Linked DNA regions of Homo sapiens: region 1 is linked to region 2. The links come from fine-mapping of genetic effects on gene expression. Tissue or cell type: ileum. Region 2 holds a variant in brackets; the other region holds the start of a gene. All regions are shown on one strand. Distances are between the middles of the regions.

Region 1 (9,022 bases), 44 kb after region 2:
AGACCTTCTGAACCTAGGGCCACCCCGCGTCCTTGGTGTAGGGTGCAGGTCAGGAGACCTGCAGCTGGGTGACCAGATGGATGCATTCCCAGGCGTGGGGTCCACAGCCAGCCAGTTCCGTCCTCCCTTCTGCCCAGGATGGAGACAGGTCACCTTGCACCCACTCCCAGGTATGCCCCAAAGCCTCTCTGCCCTGGCTGCCCCCGCCCACCGCAGGAAGGACACAGGAGGAGCAGGCTTGGGAGGAGGTGTAATGAGCCGTCCCTGACCCTCAGAAGGGTCAACCTCACACCACCCCCAACCCCTGCAGAAACCCGGCACCATCCAGAAATCCCTGACCTACCTACAACCCGAGCCAGATGGGCCTGCCCCATGCCAGCCGGCCAGCCACAGCCTGAGCCAAGCGGGAGGAGGGACAGCTTCCGGACGGGAGCCCAGGCAGCCAGACCCATGTCCGCAGGCTGTTGGCAGGGCACAGAGAGAGGGGAGGCAGAGCTCCACCAGCTGCAGCTTCAGCCCCCCAACACTGGAGCTTTCTGCTCAGGATTGGTCTGGGGAGCCACAGCTGGAGCTGGTCGGAAGCATGACCTCCAATTCCAGGGGCCCTTTTCCTTTGTTGCTTCTACACACACACACACACGCAGGAATACTCACCACCACACACACATGCTCTCACACACTTGTGCACACACATTTACACGTACCATGCACACTCACGTATGATTACACACGCATGCACAGTCAGGTACATACATCACACATGCACACACTCACACACACTTGTGCACACACATTTACATGAACCACACACGTGTGATTACACACATGCACATGCAGGTACAGACAACACACAGGCACACACCCTCACACACTTGTGTACACACATTTACACGTGCCATGCACACTCGTGCGATTACACACACATGCACACACTCAGGTACATACACACAGCACACATGCACACACCCTCACACACCCGTGCACACACATTTATACGTGCTATGCACACTCACGTGTGATTACACACACGTGCACACTCAGGTACATACAGACAGTACACAGGCACACCCCACACACACTTGTGCACACACATTTATACGTGCCATGCACACTCATGTGTGATTACACACACGTGCACACTCAGGTACATACAGACAGTACACAGGCACACCCCACACACTTGTGCACACACATTTACATGTGCCATGCACACTCACGTGTGATTACACACGTGCACACAGGTACATACAGCGCACATGCACATACCCTCACACATTGTGCACACACATTTACACACACCATGCACACATGCAATTACACACACATGCACACAGGTACACACACCACACATGCACACACGCCCTCACACACTTGTGCACACACATTTACACACACCATGCCCACCCACGTAATTACACACATGCACACATATGCATTCACATGTACACACATGCAAATACACTCCTGCCTACACACAGTCATACACATGCACACACATGCACACACAAAAATATATGTACACACTCATGCACACAATGCATTCACATGCACACATAGTTACACTCACAGTACATGCCCACTTATGCAATTACACGTGAGTACACACATACACTGACACGTGCTGGCTCACACACAGGCCCCTGTGTCAGAGCCCAGGGATGGATCCGCAGGCCCGAGGTTGAAGGTGCCCGTGCCAGTGGGCAACGCCGGGGTTGGCAATCATGATGAGTCAGGAGCAGGAGGGGAACGCCGACCGCAGTTGCGATGCCGGGCGGGGTGGGGCTCGAGCTCAAGGATGGAGCAGAGGCGAAGCTGGCCAGGCGTCCTTCCTCCCAGCCAGCCTCTGCCCAGCCTCTTCTCTCCCTGCATCCCCTGTCTTCTCCCCCACCCGGCAGGGCAGCTGCATTGGTGGAGTACATCTGGCCTTGGCCACTCAAGTCTGGGCTGGGGAAATGTGATGATGAGGCTAAACGTGAGCCAAGCCCTTCCTTCCGGTGCGTCGGGGTGGGGAGGAGGGCACCGGGGCCTGCCCTCGCCCTCACGCTCCCTTCCCCAGGAAGGGCTCCAGCACCAGACACATTGACACACGGCTGCCCCTCTCACTGTGAGCCCATCACAGCCTCCCTCCCACCATCTCAGTCCCTGCTGCTCCACCTTGCCCTCAGGGGGACAGGGTCATGTCTGCCCAGCACCTGCTCTGCTACCAGCCAGCTCTTCTCGCAGCCCTGAGCTGGGGAGGTGCAGGACCTGTTTACACCCCTCTTCCCTGGGCTGCCCTGGCCACCCAGGTCTGGTCTCCACGCAGGGCTTGGCAGAGCTGTGTAAGCACCTGCCCTTGGGCTCCGGGTGAGGAGCTGGATAAGAAGGTGGCCCCTCTTCCTTTCCATAGGGGTAGGATTCCAAGCCCTCTTCAGCCCCACGCTGGCCCCATCCCTGCACACGGAGAAGTGGCTGCTGCCCAGGTCTACGTCCCATGTCCCCTGAGCCTGAGCAACCCCGCCCCCCTCAACCCCCGCTCCCAGCCCCTCCTGCAGGTTCCGCTGAGCTGGCTGAGCAGAAAGCCAGGCCCTGATGGCTCAGGAGAGGGAAGGGCAGACCCCTGCCCGCCCAGACCTAGCCAGTACCCCGACCTCTCTGGGACCCACCATCAGGACCCCTCACTGTCCTTTGATCCCTTGGCCCCTCAACTGCACCTGTTCTACCCGTGTGCTCCCCTGAGAGGGAGAGGGGCCGAGCGCCCACAGCCAGGGACTGTCCTGCCGGCACCACCTCTCTAGCCCGCCCTTGCCCCCTGCCACCGCCCGGGCTCACTTTGAGGGAGTAGGCCAAGGCGATGAAGCCCAGGCAGCAGAAGTTGAGGTAGACGAAGTTGAAGATGGACCACAGGTAATAGTCGTTCACCTCGGTGGTGTCCGGGTAGACCTCGATGACGGTCGTGGGGTTGGTCATCGTCTTCTTCTCGGCTAGGTGCTTGCAGGCAGGGGGCGCGCCGGCAGCCCGCACGCTGTCGGTCTTGCTGCTCTTGGACTCCATGGGGAACAGTGTGGGCGCCATCGGGGGAGAGGCCGAGGGCTCAGGGGCAGGGGCCGCCGGAGCCTGCAGGGCAGGGGGCTTGGACACGCAAGCGAAGCAGCCCTTGGGCGAACCTGCCGGGGGCCTCGGAATCCAGAAGGCCCCGTCCAGGGGGACTCGGGCTTCCTGGGCGCCGTCCGTGGTGCTGGCCGGGTCTCCCAGCGGGGCTGGGCACTGGCCGGGGCCCTGGGCCTGGAGAGGAGAAAGTGAGAGCAAGCTGGGCCCGGCCTACCGGCCAGCACCCACCCTCACGCCCAGCAGCTCCGAGAACAGCCCCAGTGGAGACGGAAATCCCTGCGGGGGCCGCCAGCTGCCAGCCTGCCACCTGCCTCCCCCACCCGCCCCGGGCCTCGGCGGCCACGGACGATGCCAAAGCCCTTCGCAGCAGCCTTGGCAGGGACCTGGGGCTTTCATCACTTCGCCATCTGCGCATAAACACTCACCCACTGACACACACAACAGCACCCCCCGCCCCGAAGCACACCAACGCTGAGACTGACACTGTTGCAAAACACAGAGTGCCCCAGCACCCCAAACAACCCCGCACACACGGGGCGCCGGACCCACAGCGACGCTGCCTCAGCCGCCAACCGGCAGAGCTAGCAGAGCGGCCAAAGCACCTGCCCACGGCGCCCGCGGACACCCGATACCGCCACGGGCACCGCCACGGGCTCCACCGCGGGCTGCACCGCGGGCTCTCCAGACCCCGGGGCGCACCCGCGGGCGCGCTCAGAGCCATTGACGAGTAAACAACTCCCCACACAAGGCGATGCAGGCTCAGCCACGAGCACCAAGAACCGGCACAGGTGCGGGGTCTCCAACTCGTGCGCACCGCCCCCCACCTCCAACCTGGGGACCCCAAGCGCGCACACTTGCCCGGAGCCACGCACCCCCGGGCCATACATAGACGCACAATAACAGGCTGTGAAATGAACACTTCTCCAACGAGGCACCAAGTCGCTCGCGCTCTGCGCCACCCCGCGTTCCCAGCTCCCGTGCGGCGCTCGCCGGGGGGTCTGCGGCCGAGGCTCTGCAGCCCCCAGCCCCATCCGGGTCTGCCGCAGCCCCCCGGACGGCGCCTCCTCACCTACAAGCGACTCCTCGGCGCGCGGCCGGACCCCCTGAGCCTCGGTGCGCGCGTCCTTCCGCCGTCCCGCGGGCCGCTGTCTGTCCACTGATCCGCCTCCCAGCGGCCCAACCTTGAGGGGGTGGGGAGCGCGCGGGGCTCGGCGGCGGCGCCGCTGCCTCCCCCGCCGCCTGCGCTCCCTCCGCAGCGCCAGACCGGCCGCGCGGCTGCAGCCCAGAGCCTGACTCACGGCGGCAGCGGGCACAGCCACCTCCCCGCCTCCGCCTCCTCCTGCCAGGAGGGTGGGGGCCTCGGAAGCCGCGACCCTGGGGAGTTGCAAGGTCCCGCAGGGATGGGACCCCTACAGCCCCCGACCAGGGTGTCCGCGCCACCTCCATCTCCCCGGACCCACTGCGTCTTCCTCCCCACCCCACCCGGCCCCATCCCTCTCGCGGAGCCCCCAGCCCCGTGGAAGACTGGACGCTCCCGGAACCCTCCCCATCTGCCTCCCCAAGAGAGACCCTCTTCCTCTTCCCACTCTCCCCATGGCGCTCCACCCCAGCGCCTGGGCCCTGCTGCCTCCAGGGACCCCCGCCCCTGGGTCCTGCCCTTCTGGCCTGTTGACTCTCAGTTCCAGCAGCTCAGTCCCCTCCTGACGAAGCTCCAGTCCCCTGAGCCCCAGCAGGCCCCCTACCTGACTGCCCGTCTCTGCCCCATCCTGTCCCTAACCAAGTCCACAAGGCCCCCAAGACCACCCTCCAGTCCCTTCCCTCCTTAGCCCACCAAGTCCAGGCCTTCCGGTAAGTTTCAGCACCCCCTACTCTGTTCCTTCCTGGCTGAGCCCACTCCTGCCCATCGGAGCTCCTGCCCCCTTTCCTGGAGTCTGACTTCACCCAGCCGGGGCCCCACTCCAGTTCACTCCCAGAGTCTGGGAGAATGTGGCCTCTCCTGCGCAGACCCCAGGTCATGCTCCATCTGCTCGCAGGGCAAAGTGTCCCGTTCCGAGCTCTGGTCCTGTGCTGAGGTCCTGGCTGCTAAGGACACTTGTCTCCCTGGAGGCTGGTTTACTCACCTGCCCACAGCCTCTCTGTGATCCCTACCAGCCCTTCTGAGCCTGGTCCCCTGAGGATACTTTGTTCCCTGTGAATCATTTTTCCTGACCAATGCCTGTCCTCCCAGCCTCAGCCGCCTCCGCTACCCCACCACATCCTCACTCTCACGGTATGCTTGACGCCAGCTGATCTTCCATCCCCATAACAGTCCCCATGAGTTCCTCCCCATGGAGAAAACTCCAGCCTTCCCTCCCTCCCTCCAAGTCCCCCACTTCACCACGCAGGTTCCCTGAGCTGGGTCCTCTTCACCAACCTCCAGCTCCCACTGAGCCTCGACCCTCTCCAAAGTCCCCCGGAAGCTGAGGATGCATGGCGGCCCCCGTTTTCCCTCCCTCATCTCTCTCCAAGCCCCATCCTCCCATGAAACTCCTTTCTCCTCTGCCACTCTCAACTGGCCTCCTGTGTCTCCGCAACCCTCTTTCCTGTCTGGAAGGCCAGTCCTGCTTGGGGTCCTGTCTGCCTGCCTGTGCCTGACTCTGAACCCTTTCTCTCCCCAAACCTCTGTTCTGAACCCTAATCCCCTGGAAAAGCCCAGCCCTCTGCAAGCCCCTCCTCTTTCCAGCCTAGTCCCCGCCCCTCATGCCTGGGCTGACCCGGGCACAGTGTTATCCACAGCACGCCAGGAACCCACAGCACAAGGCTGATCTTAAATGATGTTGATAAACCCTAACGAGCAGGAGGGGTCATGAAGCATGAGGAGCCTCCTCCTCGTCTCCTTGGGCACCCTGGCCATGCTCTCCCTGGAGCCCACAGGCCGTGGGTGGATGGGGCCTGTCGGAGAACCAGGGTTCCGTTCTCCCTCCCCAACTCCCTCCTCCTTTCCAAGGGCCTGGCCCAGGGAAAACTGGACCCGGTGTCCTCAGACGGGGCCTGATCCCAGGCTGAGTGTGGCCTGTGTGCCATGCCCCCATGTCTCCCCAGCATCTGAGCTGGGCTTACCCGGCCAGCCACCACCTTCTGGGAGACCCTGGCCTGCCACACAGCCTCTGCCCAGTGCTGCCCCACCCCAGTTTGCCCTGAAGGCCTCAGGCAGTGAGGAGGCCTCCATAGCAGGAGAGGGTTGCCTGGGCCCGAGGGTCCAGGGCCTGCCCAGGGTCACTGGGTAGGTGACAGGGGAGCCAGGGCCTGCTCCCGGCCTCAGGCCACCTTGGGGCTGCCTCTGAGGCCAGGAAACACCACTGAGAGGGAGCCAGGGGTCGCAGGGCAGAGCCAGGGCCGAGCCAAACTTGGCACAGCCAGCATTCATGTGACTGTTGGTGGGCTCCCCAAGGGCCTGGGCTCCAGCTTCCCCTTTGCTAGGGGTTTCTGGTTACAACCCACAGTCTAGACAGGGGGGGACTCCAGGCTCAGGGTCCAGTCACCAGCTAGAAAACCACGGAGGAACCCGGGGTCAGACTCCAGGGCCCCGAGAATCCTGCCGGGCTGGAGGGAGCCCTCGGAGCAACCCCAGGGCAGCAGCCATGAAGATGGGAGCTGGACGGAGCTGACAAGCTGCAGAAGGAGGGAGATGGGGAGAGTGGGACAGGGCAGGGACAACAGGGTATGGCTGCCTCCTTGTACCTCTCTGCCCTCCCAGGCCTCAGTGCACAAAGCATCTGATGACAGGACATTTGTCTCCCCAGAAGCCCTGCCAGGCCCTGCAGAGTTCTGCCCAGCTCTGCTCAGATTTCAGGCATGCCAAACGCCAGGCATGTGTTTCCAAGCCTCCGTGCCACCCTGGGTAAATGTTCTTGCTCCAGGTGTCTGCCGTAGCATGGCTCTGGGGTGAAAGCCCTGCAGCCCCTTGGGAGGAAGGCCAAGGCAGCCACCACCCTCAGGCAGAGGCATCAAGATAATGGCAAATGTCACATCTGCCTCATCTTCTAACCTGTTGGGGTGGGGCTCGAGGGGGCTCTAAGTGACTCCAGAGCTACTGATCCCAAAAGGAACTCTGCTCCCACCACCACATGCCCACAAACTCCTACTTACCTATTAGAACCCCAGGGGCTGCTACCACTGCATCCGGGCACACGCTCCCAACCCCTCCCCTCCCAGCGGAACAAGCGCACCGCGTTATCAGCCCGGGGATCCGTGACTGTGGCAGCTGTGGCTGGAGGGGACTTCTGAGTCCAATCCCTGCAACCAGGGACCCTGGGCAGGCTTGCTTGGTGCCAGCTCAGCTCACTGCACACAAAACCGCTTCTAGGGCCTGGGAGGCAAGAAGGCCCAGCTAGGCCAGCCCCCCCACGCCACCTGGGGCCATTTATTTCCCGGGACAAGAGGGCTGAGGAGGGTGACTGGTAGGCCTGCTCTGAGGGTCCCCGAGAGCAGAAATAGCCTCTGTTCGAGTGCCGTGGCTGCCTGGCTGGGCCACCTCCCTGAAATCACTCCTCAAGGCTGGCACTCACACTAGACACCCTGAAACCCCAGCCAAGGCCACATCCTGCCGGCTACTGCTCCAGACCTGGGAACAAGTCAGTCCCCGCTGGCCGACCAGGCTGGAGCCCATGGGCTGGGCAGGGCAGGGCAGGGGGCCATAGGCCCGGGGCACCCCAAATGCTTGTCCCGGTGCTGCCGAGTCAGCTGCCGTGCTGGCTTCGCACTACCCACCCTCCTTCCCCATCCCAAGTTGGAGCCACCCCTGACCAGGCACAAGAGCACACCAGCACAGAGGGGAGGCCGGAGGCCAACAACTGTATTTCCATGTCAGCTGGGGCTCTCAGCCGCCCAAGGGGAGGACAACAGAGGTCAGCTGCAGAGGAAGGCTGGCACCAGCCCCCAATCCCAACCCCACCTCCAGGCCAATACATGCCCCTGGGACTGGCTCAGTCCCAGCACCACCCTGCAGGCTCCAACAAGGTGGGTTTTGTCCCCTCTCACTCCTTCCAGCTCATCCTCAGGCCTCTAGCGGCCTCATCCTCAACGGGCCCGGGACACTGAACAGGTAGGGTGGCAGAGCCCAGCTGGGCCCAAGCTGGGCAGAGGGGCCCTCAGGCAGGGCAGGTTTCCAAGGGAGGGCCCGGGAGGACGGCCTGGTGTGGGGTAGGGGCTCAGCCCAGCGGGCGCTGGTAGGGCCGGGGAGGGGACTCCCTGGAGATGAAGGGAGCCCCAGGATACACGAGCTCGGCTGCCAAGCTTGGGTGGGGTCTTCCAATGCACGAAACAGATCTGTGCTCTGGATCAGCTCTACCCCCACCAAACAGATGGAGAGACAGACAGGCAGGCAGCATTTCTGAACCCAGGGAGGGGAAAACCACAGAACAAAACAGCAAGTCGGGCTTGGGCCGCCGGCTTCCAGGGCGCCCAGGACAGTGGGCGGGCGAGTGTGTGGGTGTGTGTGGGAGGGGCCGCTGGGCCAGGGGCCTCCTGCTCTGGGACTCTCCTCTGTTTCTGTGCTGGCGCGCGGACGCCTTGGGAACTAGAGGCGGGCAGCCTCGGCGAAGCCCACCCTGTTGTTGTCACGGTCAAACACAGTGTAGTAGCGGCCGATGAAGACGTCGCCCAGGATCCAGAGTGGCCCGCTGGGTGGCGGGATGTCCATGCCCATGAAGCCGCTCAGGCAGAGGGTCTTCCCGGCCTGCGACACCTGGGACGGCCCTGGTGGTCAGTACCCAGGCCTAGCACCACCCGCCCCCCCACCTGTTGCCCGCTCACCTGGAGCGTGCGCCCCCTCACCGCCCGCTCACCTGGGGCGTGCGGCACCCCATTGCCCGCTCACCTTGAGCGTGTAGTCCTCTGGGGACAGCTTGTAGCCTTTGCCTCCCAGCTTCAGTGTGATCGCGGGCAGGGTGGA
Region 2 (10,513 bases):
TGCTCACAGCTGACAGGGAATCAGAACCCTCCCCTGCAGCTCAGGTCCTGGGTGGAGACAGCCTATCCAGTCCTCCAGGGACCACAAGGTGGGTGTCCTTTTTCTTGACTCCCATAGCAGCTGTGACTGAGATGCAGAGCTGGCACACACCTGGGCATGGCCCCACACGCAGGTGGCATGGGTGCAGTTCTAACCTCTCAGTCCGACTGCAAATGCTGCTCATAACCACAACAGAACATTTGGCCAGAGACTGCTCTCCTCTCGGGAGCCACACTCAGGGACATCACCAGGAAGATACCTCCTATCCCAGGCCCCGTCTCACCATGGCTCTGACAGCAAATGTGGGGGCAGAGGTAGTGCAGGGCAGGCCCTGGGGAGGACCTTGGCCAGTCAGTGGCGCCTTTTCCTGAGGCCCCAGTATGGCTGCCTTGCCAGTCCTTCCTGACTGTCTCTGCCCTCAGCCCCTGAGCCCCAGGCCATCAGTGACTTGGTGGCCCTGGGGAGCAGCCTCTCATCTTTCTGCCTGGCCATCCTTGGCCAGGAGGTCTCCCTGCTGACCACTCCATTCGGGTCTAATTTGGTGCTTCCAGTGTGTCCATGGATGCATTATGATTCAAAAATAATCATCGCACTCATACTCACGGAGTCTGTATCATGTTGCCAGGCTCTGAGTTCAATGCTTTGCATCCTCTATCCCGGTTACGGAAGTGAAAACCACAGAGCCAGAATCTCAGCCCATGTCACTTGGTCCCCAAGGCCTGATGCTACCCTGATTTTCTTGGATGCCGGCTGCCTCACCCAAAAAGTGTGGATTATGTTAGAGTGAAAGTTCCCCAGGAATAAAACCACCCAAAAAAGACCAGAAAGGGTAGAAGAGACATCGATATCATGGCATCCAGATCCAGGAAAATGACAACCAGAGAGCCCAGCCTTTAATGTGAGCTCCCTAGCAGTCAGAGCAAAAAGGGAAAGAGGGGACACATAGGCTTCATCACCTGGAGGAGGGAGCAGCACAGTTTACAGCAGAAATACGCTCTGTCACGTTTCAGAGTGAAGAGTCAGTTGGGGTGACAGCTGTGGAATAGAGGTGCCCCTCAGGGAAGAGGGTCCCTCGCTGCTGTTGCCACATTGTATTAAAATAAAACTATAAAAAAGTGGACAAGGTATCCATGTAGAACTCAATAAGTTTCCACAAAAGCTGAACACCTTCCTAGAACTGGCCCTCAGAACAAGAAATAGAACATTCCGGCACCCCAGAAGCACCCATTTCTAATTGCTACCCACTCCCCACCAAGAGTAACCATGAGCTTGAATTATCCCATCAGACACCAGTTTTGTCTGTTACTGGACTTCATAAAACGCCATCGTAGGCCGTGTCCTCTCATGGCCAGCTCCTTTGGCCCCAGACTATGTTGGCGAGGTTCATCCACTGTGTTGCATGGAATTTGCCCCGTTCGCGGCTGTTGCTGGGTCCTGAATTGTAAGAGTGCAGCGCAGCATGCACACGCACTCAGAGGATTTGGTTTTAAGAGCTGCGTGGGAGGGTGCAATGCAGAAGACAAGTCTTTGTTCTGCACAGTGGGTGGTTGGAGCTCAGAGCTGCTGCCCAAAGCAGAGATCCCGGAAGGGACTGTGCCCTCTGATGGGGGTGGCTAGAAGGCAACCCAGCCGCTGCCAGAAGGAAGGGACTGTGCCCTCTCATGGGGGCAGCTAGAAGGCAACCCAGCCACTGCCAGAAGGAGACAGCAGAGAAATACGTTTGCTGAGTCTGAGATGGGTGATAAAAACATTTCCTTTGAGAAGTGACAACTTCAGGCCCACCATTATCCAGGTGGGAGGCACACATTGGCATCAGTTTTGTGGTCCAGAAAACCACAAGCTGAGCAAGTCACTTAAAGTGGTCCTGAATTGATAGGACCCAGAGCAGCCCGGTGGAAGGAAGTGCAGCAAAACTTCAGACAAAGTCTGTGTCCTCAGCCAAGGCCCTGAGCTCCCCACCTACAGCCGAGGCAAACATGAGCTCACAGCAGAAAACCACAAGCACACAAGGAAAGCAGCCACCGTGGGCAAGAGCCAGCACCCGCAGTCAGAGACACATGGAGACACCAAGGGCCATGAATGAGGACATGAGGAGATAAAATACCAGCTAAATATTTAAAACAATGGGCTCACCCACTGTCTTGGGACCACGAAGGCTCTTCTGAGAGAGAAAGTTTCCTATCCTCAGAGTTTTAGGTGAACATATGGGTAAATCTAATGGGTTATTCTCTTCAAAATGTGTTTGATGTTGTAAACAAAAATCACACCATTCTCTGGTGGGGTTTTCAAAATGAGTATTTGTCATTTATGAGACAAGTGGTCTCTATTGCGGGAAGATTCCTGGATTCCACCTAAATTAGTGAAATATCGATTCTAAGTACACAGTGCAAAAGTAAGCAATATACCCGTACTCTAGAACAACCATTAAAAAGATATAAACAAAGAATATAGTCAAGCTGGTTCTTTGAAAAGATCAACATATTTTTTAAATTTTAGCAAGACTGGCAAGATGAAAAAGAAAGAAGATGCAAATTACCAATATCAGGAATGAGAAAAGGGATATCACTTCGGGTCCCACGGACATTAAAAGGATAATGCAGGAATACTGCACGCCGCATACATTTGGAAACTAAGAGGAAAGGGACCAATTGCTCGAAAGACATGAACCACCAAACTCAAGAAGGAAGAGGGAGCCTGAATATCTCTATCAAGAAACAGAATTTGTAGTTAAAAGCCTTCCCACACAAAAAAACCCTTCAAGGCCAGATGGTTTCATTGGTTAATTCTACATAACCTTCAAGGAACAAATAATCTGAAAGCAAGCAGGAAAAAATATATAAATTTATGGATAAGTGTGTATGTATGCATATAAAATTAGAAATCAATGCAATAGAAAATAGCAAAACAACGGAGAAAATTTATTCAACCAGCCAGGCGTGGTGATTCACGCCTATAATCCCAGCACTTCGGGAGGCCGAGGTGGGTGGATCACTTGAGGTCAGGTGTTCGAGACCAGCCTGGCCAACACGGCAAAACCCCATCTCCACTAAAAGTACAAAAATTAGCCTGACGTGGTGGCCCATGATTGTAATGTAAGCTACTTGGGAGGCTGAGGCAGGAGAATAGCTGAACCCAGGAGGCAGAGGTTGCAGAGAACTGAGCTGAGATCGTGCCACCACACTCCAGCCCGGGCAACAGAGTGAAATTCCATCTCAAAAAAATAAAAAAAATAAAACAAGAAAATTAATTAAACCAAAATCTGGTTCTTTGAAAAGATCAATAAAGATCAATAAATAAAGATCAAAAAAGATAAGCCTGTAGCAAGACAGACAAGAAAAAAGAGCAGACACACATGACCGAGGTGTGTGTGGGATATCACCATGTTGGCCAGGCTGGTCTCAAACTCCTGACCTCAGGTGATCCACCTGCCTTGGCCTCCCAAAGTGCTGGGATTACAGGAGTGAGCGTGCCCGGCCCAAAACTGTTCTATATGATACTGTGATGGTGAATAAATGGCATTCCACGTTCATCATTTGTGTTGTAGAACGTACAACATGAAGAGTGGAGGTGAAGGTTAGGTCTGGACTTTGGGTGCTCACCACGTGTCAATGTTGGCTCATCAATGATGACAAATGGGCCACCCTAGTGTAGGATGCTAACAGCAGGGGACGTTATGTAGGTGTGGCAGCAGGTGAAATACGGTAATTTTCTATACATTCAACTCAATTTTGCTGTGAACCTAAAACTGCCCTAAAACATAGTGTGTTTTCTGAAATACGTCCAAAAATAAAAAGTTATAAATCTAACAAAATATGTACAGAATGCACATGTTATAAATACAAAACACTGATGAAAGGAATCAAAAAATACCTAAATAAGTGGAGAGAGTCGTGCATTCATAGATTTGAAGACACAAAATAATAAAGACGTCAACTTCCCCAAAACTGATGTGCAGATTTAATTGGATTCCAACAACAATCTTAGCAGGATTTTTTGGTAGATATTCATAAGCTGTTTATGAAATTTATGAGGAAAGGCAAAAGAAAATAGAATAACCTCAAGGATCTAGAACTAGAAATACCATTTCACCCAGCCATCCCATTACTGGGTATATACCCAAAGGATTATAAATCATGCTGCTATAAAGACACATGCACACGTATGTTTATTGCAGCACTATTCACAATAGCAAAGACTTGGAGCCAACCCAAATATCCATCAATGATAGACTGGATTAAGAAAATGTGGCACATATACACCATGGAATACTATGCAGCTATAAAAAATGATGAGTTCATGTCCTTTGTAGGGACATGGATGAAACTGAAAACCATCATTCTCAGCAAACTATCGCAAGGACAGAAAACCAAACACCACATGTTCTCACTCATAGGTGGGAACTGAACAATGAGAACACTTGGACACAGGAAGGGGAACATCACACACTGGGGCCTGTCGTGGGGTGGGGGGAGGGGGGAGGGAGAGCATTAGGAGATATACCTAATGTAAATGACGAGTTAACGGGTACAGCACACCAACATGGCACATGTATACATATGTAACAAACCTGCACGTTGTGCACATGTACCCTAGAACTTAAAGTGTAATAAGAAAACATTTAAAAAAGAAAAGAAAATAGAATAGCCAAAACAATTTTGAAACAAGAAATATAGTTGGAAGAATGACATTAGCTGACTTTGAGACATTCCATAAAGCGACAGCAATGTAGACAGTGTGGTATGGGCAGAGGGGTAGACACACAGATCAAGGGAAAAGCACGGAGTTGAGATGTCACTCGCACACACAAGACTGCGCTAATTTATGACAAAGGGGCAAGACAACTAAATGGAGAAGTGTCTGCTGCAATCACAAAATACCTGTGACTGGGTATTTTACAAACAATAGAAGTACATTTCTCACAGTTTTGGAGGCTAGACGTCCCCAGATCAAGGTGCCAGTATTCTGCATCTGGTGGAGGCTCTTTGCTGTGTCCTTTTGGTGGAAAACATAAGGGGCAAAAAGGACCCAAGCTCATCCCCCCCAGCCCTTTAATGAGGCACTAATCTATGCCTGAGAGCAAAGCCCTGACTTGATCACTTCTCAAGAGACCCCACCTCTTAGTAACACCATAACAGGGGTTAAGTTACAGCGCATGAATTTTGGGGAACGCATTCATACCAGCGCGCGAAAGGAGAACCGTTTCCAAAAAATGGCATTGGAACAATTGAACCGCCGTAGACAAAACGAAAACAAAACCTCAACCTCAACCTCATACTTTATATAAAATTAACTCTATGCCCATCATAGACCTAAATGTTGAATATAAAACAATAAAACATTTGGAATAAAACAGGAGAAAGTCTTAGTGACCTTGAATAATAAAAACACACTGTGTAAGAAATAATAATGTGAGTGAAATTCAGTGTCCTTTAAAGATAAAAGGTCACGTCATAAGGAGAGAGACACACTTGGCAGTGCTCCTGGTTGCTGGTGGAGGACCAAGTGAGTCCTTATTTAGAAGGGACATTTTTTTTTTCTGTGCCATTTTCTTCATCGAACATTTAGTCCTTTGAAAGCTTGTGATTATCTTATGTTCAAATGCTATGAAATAATAAAGTCACAGGGCAGTCCCACTGCAGCGTGACAATGAGGGGGAACTCCAGAGATCCACTTCCATG[T/TGGG]GAAACTGGTGAAGACTTTAAAAACAAAAACAAACGAAACCCCACCCCCAACAACCATTTAAAGCATCTGCAAATGGCCCTGTAGCCATTTCAAATAGAGAAACATTTATTCAAGAAAATCGACTAAAGCTTAGTGAGAACTGTGTGAGTCTGTGGTATCTGAGCCAATGCGTGTGCCCTCTCCCAGCCCAGTGAGACAGAAGCTCCACTCCAGGCTGTACAGCCAGGAATGCAAGACTATCTCTCCTCCAGTTTCTGTAATTGCCCGACAGGCTCTTCCCGCCCGCTGCACAGACAAAACCAGTTCACTCTGAGAACATGGTATTGCAGTAAATGAAATGTTTAATTAACGCAAGGCCTGCCAGGTGGAAGAACTGGAATGATCACTCAAACCCGTCTCCCTGAAGGCTTGAAGGTTAGGGTTTTTCCAGGACAGTGTGGTGGGTGGGGGGCTGGGGAATGGGTGCTCCTCATTGGTTGCGGGGGCAATCACAGGGGTGTGGAAAATGGTCCTTGTGCCCTGAATCTGCCTCTGGGTGGATAACAACCCCAAAGTGAAAGCAACCCAGACATCCTTCAACGGGTGAACGGTTAAACAAGTCGTGAGTCACGAGTCTGCATGGGGTCAGTTGGAAAACCACCTCAAAAGACCAATCTTAATTCTACCACAGTGATATTATCTATAGGAGCAACTGGGGAAGCCACAAATCTTGTGATCTCTGGACAAATGACTCCTAAGCAGAGGGGGATTATAGAAACTATGCCTATATTTTAGCAGAACTCATGCCCTCCTGTAATTCTAATCTTGTGGTCTTTCATTAGTCCTATAAAGGCAGTTTCAGCTCCCCAAAAAGGAGGGGATTTGTTTTAGGGCGGGACCGTTATCATCCTTGCTTACAAGTTAAACTATAAACTAAATTCCTCCCATGGATATAATAGAGGCAGGAGGCAGACAAATCCCAGGCAGATGGGGGTGGGTCCCCAGTGAAACCTCACCTTCAAGCCAAAACATCCTGAAACCTGCAGCCCAGAGTGAAAACTTCTATTCTTGTTTGCCTGCTCGCTCCGGATTGGTTCATTTTGAATAATGCCTTTTTAACCAATCAAATACTGCCTTTTCCAATACTACCTATGGCCTGGCCTGCCCCCGTCCTGGGCCTATAAAGACTCCAGACTCAGTTGGTAGAGAGAGAGAGAAGGCCTGACTTCAAGGAAGAGATCTCCTGACTTTGGGGAAGACGACCTGCCCTCCCTGTCCCCTTTCCAGTTCCCCTCTCTGCTGAGAGCTGTTTTCATTGCTCAGTAAAAGTCTCCACTTTCACCATCCTTCAATCACCAGCATGACCTCATTCTTCTTGGACGCTGGACAAGAGCTCAGGACCCACAGAGTGCAGGTACCTAGAAAGGATGTCACCCGGGCCCTTTGCCCTCGCCAGCAGAGGGCAGCTGCCCCACGCGATGAGGCCAGGGGCCGACCGAGCTGCTAACACATTGCCCTCCATTGGGATGTGGATGGTGGAACTATAAGAGCTGATTAGAGCACTAACACCCCCTCTGGGGCTTCGGGGTTGCGGGCACCCTTGTCTGGGCACTGCCATGTTCTCCTCGAGGTGACACACCTGGTCTGGCTGTGGGCCCCACGTGGAGTTTGCTCCCGTGTCAGCGTTCAGAGTGGCTGGCCAGATCCCACACTTGCTCGCTCATGCACTCCCTCCCGCAAGGGGCTGAGCATGCTGGGCCAAGTAGATGAGGAGCCTCTGCTGTGAGTCCAGCAAAGAGGCTGAGAAAAAATCCTGCATCAGTTAGCTTGGCCTGAGTCCAGGAATAAGCAAGGACAACCAGCCTATGAGCCAGAAGCAAGATGGAGTCAGCCATGCTAGACCTCTCTCGCTGTCAAAAGGTAGTTTCACTTCCAGTTGGTGAGGCTCTCTTCCTGTGAGGGTCAGTGTGCTAGCATCCTGCCCCCAGCTACCTGTGTCTCAGGCTGAATTCTGAGTGAGTGTGTCCGAGAGGTGAGGGTCCCTTCCTCTACTCAGCCTCAGGTCTCACTCATGCAGCAAAGGCTGCCCTGGGTTCATCATGCTGAGAATCCTGGGTCTCGGGTCTCTGGTCACCTTTGCTCCAGCTTATGGGAGGGGTTCATGCTGAGAGAGGCAAGCTGAGGACACCTGGAGCTGCTGCCCATCACTCAAGTGTCCAGCTTCTAAAGTAGGCATGACACCAGTGAGCCAAGATCCCTGCCGTCAGTTCCAGAGCTGTGGCTTAGAGATTTTGTCCAGGGAGAATGGCAGGATGTAGAACAGAGGATCTCCTAGTCTCTCCCAAAAGGAACTGACTTCATTTGCAACAGAGTATGAAGTTCAAACCTAAGGGTGCTCTCAGAGTCAGTGGCGGTTGTGGTGAAGGGCAACTGGGAGAAGATTGATAGATTCTTTAGAGACGTAGCCTAACTCTAAGATGGCTAGTTTTCTGGAGAGAAATGGAGAAAGAGAGAGCTGGGAAGAGACTTTCTGGGTTAGTAAGAAATCTCAAGCACTGGCCTTTCCTTTCAAAGGAGTCAGAATTTGATTGGATTAGTCTGTGAAGCAATTTATTCCCTAGGGTGATGTCAAAAACAATCGAGCAACCAGCTTGCAATGACGAATTTAGCAGCTGGGTTTGGTCAGGGAAAGAGACGAAGAGAGCCTTCCCACACCCCCATCATATCAAGGTGGACCTGCCCACTACTTCTCAGGGGAAACAGACTTTACTGCAGTATTCCAGTCATTGCAGCTTTCACCTAAAAGCTTTCACACAATTGCTTTGGGCTATTCATAATAGCCCCACACTGAAAATCCAGGCGTCCTTCAATGGGCGAACAGTTAAATAAGTTGGGGCTCGTTCAGCTTATGGAATATGTTTAGCAAGAAAAAGGAATGAACTATTGATACATACCACAGCCTGCTAATCTCCAGAGAATCATGCTGAATGAAAAATAAAAAGCCAATTCAAAAGGTTACATGCTGTTTTATTTCAGTTACATAACATCCTTGAAATGAAAACTTTATAGAAATGGATAACCAATTAGTGTCTCCTAGGGTTTATCGCCCAGGGTTCCGGCAGTGATGAATGTGGTCTGTGTTTTGAAAATATCGATGCCAATATTCTGATTGTGATATTGTTCCGTAGTTTTGCAAGGAGTTACCATTGAGGGAACTGGATAAAGGGTTCATGATATTCTATTATTTCTTACAACTGCATGCAAACCTAAAATAATCTCAAAATAAAAAGATTAATATATTAAAAAAAGAATTAGGATACTTCTGCTTTGGGTCAAGATAGAGCAACAGAGAATAAATATACAATTGTAAATGTAAAACAACAACAACAAAACCAAGACAAACACATTATTCTCAAGAGGTAGACAACAGACAAGAAAGGACTGGGAGGTGAGCCCTGGGACGTGAGCCCTTCAGTGGCCCCAGGTTTCAGCCCTCAGAGTGTTTCCAGGTCATGGCGCAGGGAGAGGAGACCCCGGGGAAGCTCAGTGTATTCCTTGAGTTGAGCATTTGTGAAGACCAAGGCAGCCCGAGGTCACAGGGCAGAGCATCGGAGAGTGGAGCGCTGCACAGGGAGCTGGGAGACATGCGGAGGGTCCCCTCTTCAGTCCTCAGCAGGGCACTGAATGGCACATGCGTGGGAGAGAACTACTTGAAGCCAGGGAAAGAACCAGCAGAGAGGACCAAAGGGAACTGTGCCAGGCGCGCACACAGGGCTGGGGACAGTGACTGACCCCAGCAGAAAGGCTGGAAAATTCCACAATTCATGGAGCATGTGGGTGGAATATTGAGAAGGGTCTCAACAGTGGAGAATAAATAACCTTCTACTAAGAATCTTCCCTCCATAATTGCTAGAAAAAGCAGATGGAAACTAAATAAGAACACAGGGCCGGGTGCGGTGGCTCACTCCTGTAATCCCAGCACATTGGGAGGCCGAGGCGGGCGGATCACGAGGTCAGGAGATCGAGACCATCCTGGCTAACACGGTGAAACCCCGTCTCTACTAAAAATACAAAAAATTAGCCAGGCGTGGTGGCGGGTGCCTGTAATCCCAGCACATTGGGAGGCCGAGGCAGGCAGATCATGAGGTCAGGAGATCGAGACCATCCTGGCTAACACGGTGAAACCCCGTCTCCACTAAAAATACAAAAAATTAGCCGAGCGTGGTGGCGGGCGCCTGTAGTCCCAGCTACTCGGGAGGCTGAGGCAGGAGAATGGTGTGAACCCGGGAGGCAGAGCTTGCAGTGAGCCGAGATCGCGCCACTGAGTTCCAGCCTGGGCGACAGAGCGAGACTCCGTCTCAAAAAAAAAAAAAAAAAAAAAAAAGAACACAGAAGGCTTGAACAACGCTTTAAACCAGCAGGATGTAGTCAGCGTTTAGAGGTCACTCCACCCAATAACAGCAGAATACACACTCTCTTCAAGTGCACAGGGAACATTTACCAACATAGACCATATTCTGGGCCAGAAAAAAAGTCTCAACAGATTTTAAGAGGTCCAAGTCCCACAGAGTATATTATCTGACCCTATGGAATTCAATCCCACATATTTGGAAACTAAATAGCATACTGCTAAGTAATCCACGGGCCAAAGAATAATTAAAAGAGAAACCCAAAATTATTTCAAACTAAAAGAAAATCAAAGCTACATCTAAATTTGTGTTTTCACAAATTTATAGCATTAAATGTCCATGTTAGAAAAGAAGTTTTCCAGGTTGGACATGGTAGCTCATGCCTATAATTCCAGCATTTGGGAGGC

What was found. PIP is the estimated chance that this variant, and not a neighbour inherited with it, causes the effect.
Region 1: it holds the start of IFITM10, and the variant in region 2 is fine-mapped to the expression of IFITM10 in ileum (GTEx, PIP 0.98).

What each region holds. Positions count from the first base shown.
Region 1 is chr11:1,744,856-1,753,877 of GRCh38, forward strand. It overlaps IFITM10 (interferon induced transmembrane protein 10), which reads right to left and starts at 5,740. Exons shown (of 3, transcript NM_001170820.4): 1 at 5,504-5,740; 2 at 2,812-3,264. The coding sequence starts at 5,587. CTSD (cathepsin D) reads right to left here. Exons shown (of 9, transcript NM_001909.5): 8 at 8,948-9,022; 9 at 7,900-8,815. The coding sequence ends at 8,648. RefSeq lists enhancers at 4,040-4,795, 4,796-5,551.
Region 2 is chr11:1,699,627-1,710,139 of GRCh38, forward strand. No RefSeq gene overlaps it. Among named protein-coding and RNA genes, the nearest start is that of KRTAP5-6, 7.7 kb to the left of the region's middle. The variant T/TGGG (reference allele first, on the strand shown) is at 5,718.